2 separate regions of the Homo sapiens genome follow, and region 1 is linked to region 2. Evidence: fine-mapped expression QTL. A gene starts in region 2. The other region holds a variant in brackets. All regions are shown on one strand. Distances are between the middles of the regions.

Region 1 (2,908 bases), 53 kb after region 2:
TGTTTTCCATTGGCTTGGTAGATCTTCCTCCATCCTTTTATTTTGAGCCTATGTGTGTCTCTGCACGTGAGATGGGTTTCCTGAATACAGCACACTGATGGGTCTTGACTCTTTATCCAACTTGCCAGTCTGTGTCTTTTAATTGCAGAATTTAGTCCATTTATATTTAAAGTTAATATTGTTATGTGTGAATTTGATCCTGTCATTATGATGTTAGCTGGTGATTTTGCTCATTAGTTGATGCAGTTTCTTCCTAGTCTCGATGGTCTTTACATTTTGGCATGATTTTGCAGCGGCTGGTACCGGTTGTTCCTTTCCATGTTTAGCGCTTCCTTCAGGAGCTCTTTTAGGGCAGGCCTGGTGGTGACAAAATCTCTCAGCATTTGCTTCTCTATAAAGTATTTTATTTCTCCTTCACTTATGAAGCTTAGTTTGGCTGGATATGAAATTCTGGGTTGAAAATTCTTTTCTTTAAGAATGTTGAATATTGGCCCCCACTCTCTTCTGGCTTGTAGGGTTTCTGCCGAGAGAACTGCTGTTAGTCTGATGGGCTTTCCTTTGAGGGTAACCCGACCTTTCTCTCTGGCTGCCCTTAACATTTTTTCCTTCATTTCAACTTTGGTGAATCTGACAATTATGTGTCTTGGAGTTGCTCTTCTTGAGGAGTATCTTTGTGGCATTCTCTCTATTTCCTGAATCTGAACGTTGGCCTGCCTTGCTAGATTGGGGAAGTTCTCCTGGATAATATCCTGCAGAGTGTTTTCCAACTTGGTTCCATTCTCCACATCACTTTCAGGTACACCAATCAGACGTAGATTTGGTCTTTTCACATAGTCCCATATTTCTTGGAGGCTTTGCTCATTTCTTTTTATTCTTTTTTCTCTAAACTTCCCTTCTCGCTTCATTTCATTCATTTCATCTTCCATTGCTGATACCCTTTCTTCCAGTTGATCGCATCGGCTCCTGAGGCTTCTGCATTCTTCACGTAGTTCTCGAGCCTTGGTTTTCAGCTCCATCAGCTCCTTTAAGCACTTCTCTGTATTGGTTATTCTAGTTATACATTCTTCTAAATTTTTTTCAAAGTTTTCAACTTCTTTGCCTTTGGTTTGAATGTCCTCCCGTAGCTCAGAGTAATTTGATCGTCTGAAGCCTTCTTCTCTCAGCTCGTCAAAATCATTCTCCATCCAGTTTTGTTCCATTGCTGGTGAGGAACTGCGTTCCTTTGGAGGAGGAGAGGCGCTCTGCTTTTTAGAGTTTCCAGTTTTTCTGTTCTGTTTTTTCCCCATCTTTGTGGTTTTATCTACTTTTGGTCTTTGATGATGGTGATGTACAGATGGGTTTTCGGTGTAGATGTCCTTTCTGGTTGTTAGTTTTCCTTCTAACAGACAGGACCCTCAGGTGCAGGTCTGTTGGAATACCCTGCCGTGTGAGGTGTCAGTGTGCCCCTGCTGGGGGGTGCCTCCCAGTTAGGCTGCTCGGGGGTCAGGGGTCAGGGACCCACTTGAGGAGGCAGTCTGCGCGTTCTCAGATCTCCAGCTGCGTGCTGGGAGAACCACTGCTCTCTTCAAAGCTGTCAGACAGGGACACTTAAGTCTGCAGAGGTTACTGCTGT[T/C]TTTTTGTTTGTCTGTGCCCTGCCCCCAGAGGTGGAGCCTACGGAGGCAGGCAGGCCTCCTTGAGCTGTGGTGGGCTCCACCCAGTTCGAGCTTCCCGGCTGCTTTGTTTACCTAAGCAAGCCTGGGCAATGGCGGGCGCCCCTCCCCCAGCCTCGTTGCCGCCTTGCAGTTTGATCTCAGACTGCTGTGCTAGCAATCAGCGAGATTCCGTGGGCGTAGGACCCTCTGAGCCAGGTGTGGGATATAGTCTCGTGGTGCGCCGTTTCTTAAGCCGGTCTGAAAAGCGCAATATTCGGGTGGGAGTGACCCGATTTTCCAGGTGCGTCCGTCACCCCTTTCTTTGACTCGGAAAGGGAACTCCCTGACCCCTTGCGCTTCCCAGGTGAGGCAATGCCTCGCCCTGCTTCGGCTCACGCACGGTGCGCGCACACACTGGCCTGCGCCCACTGTCTGGCACTCCCTAGTGAGATGAACCCGGTACCTCAGATGGAAATGCAGAAATCACCCGTCTTCTGCGTCGCTCACGCTGGGAGCTGTAGACCAGAGCTGTTCCTATTCGGCCATCTTGGCTCCTCCACCCGAGGGTGTTTCTTTGAGAGTGAGGAAGTCATCGTTAGAGGCTAGGCTGAAGCCCTGGGCAGGGTCTTATAGAGATGTAAAAGGTCTGAACTTTAAGGTACAGACAAAGTGAAACTACTGCAGAATTTTATTTTATTTTATTTTTAAGACAGACTCTCATTCTGTCACCCAGGCTGGAGTACAGCAGCATGATCTCCGCTCACTGCAGTCTCTACCTCCTGGATTCAAGTGATTCTCGTGCCTCAGCCTCCCGAATAGCTGGGATTGCAGGCCTGCACCACCATGCCTGGCTTATTTTTGTATTTTTAGCAGAGATGGGGTTTTGCCATGTTGGCCAGGCTGGTCTCGAACTCCCAGACTCAAGTGATCTGCCCTCCTTGGCCTCCCAAAGCTGGGATTCCAGGCGTGAGCCACTGTGCCCAACCCTACTACAGGATTTTAAAGGATAACTGTGGAATTTAAGAAGATTAATATGGTGGTGGGGTGGAGGAAGATGAGGAAGAAGAGAAGGAAGGTAGTTAAACTAATATGACTCTCTAAAGCTGACTTTTTTTTTTTTTTTTTGATACTGAGTCTCACTCTGTCACCCAGGTTGGAGTGCAGTGGTGTGATCTTGGCTCACTGCAACCTCTACCTCTTGGGTTCAAGTGATTCTCCTGCCTCAGCCTCCCAAGTAGCTGGGATAACAGGCACCTGCCACCATGCCTGGCTAATTT
Region 2 (2,908 bases):
TGGAATGTGGCAAATTACTGGGATACATAACTTGTAAGTAAAAAGGTCACACTAGAATAGGCTGGAACATGGTTATATCATAAAATCCAAGTCCTAAAGTTTTATGACAGAGAAAGGGAATAAGCCTTTTCAAACCTGAATCCCTTACTAGAAACAAAGGCCCACTTGCTAAACAGGAGGAAACTGAAAGTGGTTTTAACAATTACCAATGACACTGCTTTGTTGTTTCCTTCCACAGTGCACAGACACATGTCTCTCACGAAGAATAACACGGGAGCTTTTCTTACAACGTGCATGTCAATTACATTTTGATTCACATGAAACCATTCTCGGGGAGTACAAGTCACTTTAAGTGTTACCTTTCTTTAAATGTGAACTAAAGAAAACTGTACTCTCATGAAAAAAGTTAACTGGAGCTGAAAATGCTAAGCAAAAACAAATTACTCAAATGTGCTGAGCAAAACAAATTAAGCCCACATGAGAAGAAAATTCCCATATTTTTACTTTGGCATAACAGGGCAAACTTCTTTGATCTTTTTGATAGGTCTGATGCATTTAAAAGATTATTTCAATAAGTGGCTTTGTATTAGGTTTGCCTTTTCTCTTTGAAAGGTAAAGATGAAGTGCAAGAGTTCTTAACCGGGATGTGCTTCAGCGTTTTGAAAACAGTGGAAGTGTACATCTGTATGCCGATATGTGTATGTATGTGTGTGTGTAAATTGTTCTGGGAGAGAGCTTTCTCCAGTTTCCCAAAAACCATTGGTTAGCAGAACGCACCAGCTGCAGAATAAAAAAGCTGGTTGGAATCTCGCCTCTGCCTTTTAATGGCCACGTCGTTTTTGTAATGGTGCTTATTCTCTGCCAGGTTCTCTCATCGACTACACGAGGACAGTCATACTATCTGCGATGTGAAGCTAATATGCAAAATTCACGGCACAGTGCCCACCCTAATAACCATCAGGATCCAAGGAATTCACATACAGTGTACACACGTTGTCATAGAAACAATCTAAACATAAAAACAATCTCAACAGAATGCTTAAAAACAAAAAAACCCGGTACCGATTATTTTACGGAGTCATAGAGGCATCAACGGCACTGAAAATGTATTAGCTGCATTCAGTTCATCAAGAACAATCTTCAACTCCCTCCACCTGACTCGATCATGCCTGACTGTGATGGAAACTGTAGTATTGTCAAGTCAACCGATGTTTGACTCGGGAGCGCATTTCGCAAATATTTTTCTTAAATATCACCTTACCGTATTTTTCTTAAGGTGGTTACAAAATTAATCTGCAGCCCACCACCCAAAGCTACAGTGCCGAAGGCCGTGTGATGAGCAGAGAAACTGAGCCTTCTACTGTTAACCAATATGGAAGAGAGTAATTGCGCCTGAGAGGAAATTACGGCAGCGGAAACGCGGGTATTCTACGTTTAAGAAATCCCCCAACTGAGGCAGAAAAAGGCCAAGTTATTTGTGTGATGCACGTGAACCGCCCGAGCTGGTCACTAATGAAGTGGATTCGCCCTATTCCTGGCGACTCTACAAGGTTGGAGACCCCCGTAGACTTCGCAGCCATCGCCCCTTGCTGCAGACCCCCAAAGTCACCGACAGCCTTACCTAGACCTGACCTTCCTCACCCACGCGCCCTCGTCCCGGAAGGCCCGCCCTCTACCCGGCTCCAAGCTCGCGCAGGCAACTATTACGGGGAGCAGTAGAGAAACGGAAGCTTGGCAGCTAGAGCGGAGCCCTAGTGAACGACCCGGAGTTACTGGCTCCCCCTCCTGAGGCCTCCGAGGTGTACCTGGCGCCTGCGCAGTAAGGCTAGCGCCGCCGCCTGTGCGGAGGACCCGGGGAGGTGGTGGGCTGGGGAGAGTTAGAAAGGTCTGGCTCTCCTGGAAGGGCATGCACGGTTCGGTAGTATGTTTTGGTGGGAATGGCTACAGACCTGCCTCCAAAAGCTCTGAAGCAATGGCGATGCGTGTGCCGTGTGGTCTTTCTGACCGACTTGCGGCGCCATCCCCCTCCCCTTCCATCTATCTGCTCATCTTCTAATAGTTAATTAGGATCCCTAGCTGCAAGCCTTCCTTGCTACTGGGTTAGGAGCGCTTTCCCCCATTGACCCAGGAGCTTCTTCAGGGAGTAGGGGATGGAACGTTTGTCTCCTCAGTAGTTATCTTAGACCTCGCTGGGCAGATAGTAGAAAGCATTGTGAGTATTTCACCCCATACTAAATCTGTTTTCAAGCAAGCCACATCCCATAGGCATTGTATGCAGCACTTACTCAATGTTTGATAGTTTGGGTGAGGAAACTGTACTCGTTTTCTGAGTATCGTTCAAGGCATTTTATAAATATTTCAAAATGTACCCTGGAATTAATATCGGTAGTGAGTTGCCTACCTAGTGGGTATTGTATTTACACCCTCTTTCCTCCTACAGAATTTACTTTTAAGTTAGAATTTGACGTCTAATCAATCTATGCTATAGGATTTGCTTTTATCAAGTTAAGTTTTGACATGTTATCAGCCTTATATGATATAGTAAACAGCCTTATAAAGTTGGGTCTAGTGACTACATTTAAGTTTACAAAGGGGTAATGAGTATCCTATACATGGCTACAGTCCAGAAAAGAAGTCCTAAGGAGCGAAACTCCTGGGAGAAATTTCGTCTTGTCTTTTGTACTTGTTTCTGTGGAGTTGGCTTGTTTTTATGTAATGGCCACTGAATCATATAAACAAGAAGACTTCCTTTACGTGTAAGCTGCTGGTTTAAAGCCAAATTTTAATTGGCTCGAGGCAAGAGCTATATATATGTGTGTGTATATATATATATACACACACATATATATATTTTTTGCATAAACCTTGTTGGCTTCGTTTTGTATATCCTTCCTGTTTTTTCCTTTTC

Which allele goes with the higher level. Positions count from the first base shown, and alleles are read on the strand shown. Sizes are in standard deviations (SD) of each study's normalised expression.
With allele T in place of C in region 1, the expression in monocytes of the gene that starts at base 1,663 in region 2 is higher (large effect, 1.5 SD a copy in BLUEPRINT).

What was found. PIP is the estimated chance that this variant, and not a neighbour inherited with it, causes the effect.
Region 1: its variant is the best candidate, but not a certain one, in a credible set for the expression of MRPS33 in monocytes (BLUEPRINT, PIP 0.71).

The regions. Positions count from the first base shown.
Region 1 is chr7:141,065,851-141,068,758 of GRCh38, forward strand. All of the region lies in intron 2 of LOC105375537 (a long non-coding RNA gene), which reads left to right. Among named protein-coding and RNA genes, the nearest start is that of TMEM178B, 6.8 kb to the right of the region's middle. RefSeq lists an enhancer at 1,269-1,863. The variant T/C (reference allele first, on the strand shown) is at 1,613.
Region 2 is chr7:141,013,290-141,016,197 of GRCh38, forward strand. MRPS33 (mitochondrial ribosomal protein S33) reads right to left here and starts at 1,663. Exons shown (of 3, transcript NM_053035.3): 1 at 1,622-1,663. RefSeq lists enhancers at 102-171, 1,314-1,959, 1,422-1,471, 1,992-2,191 and a silencer at 1,536-1,844.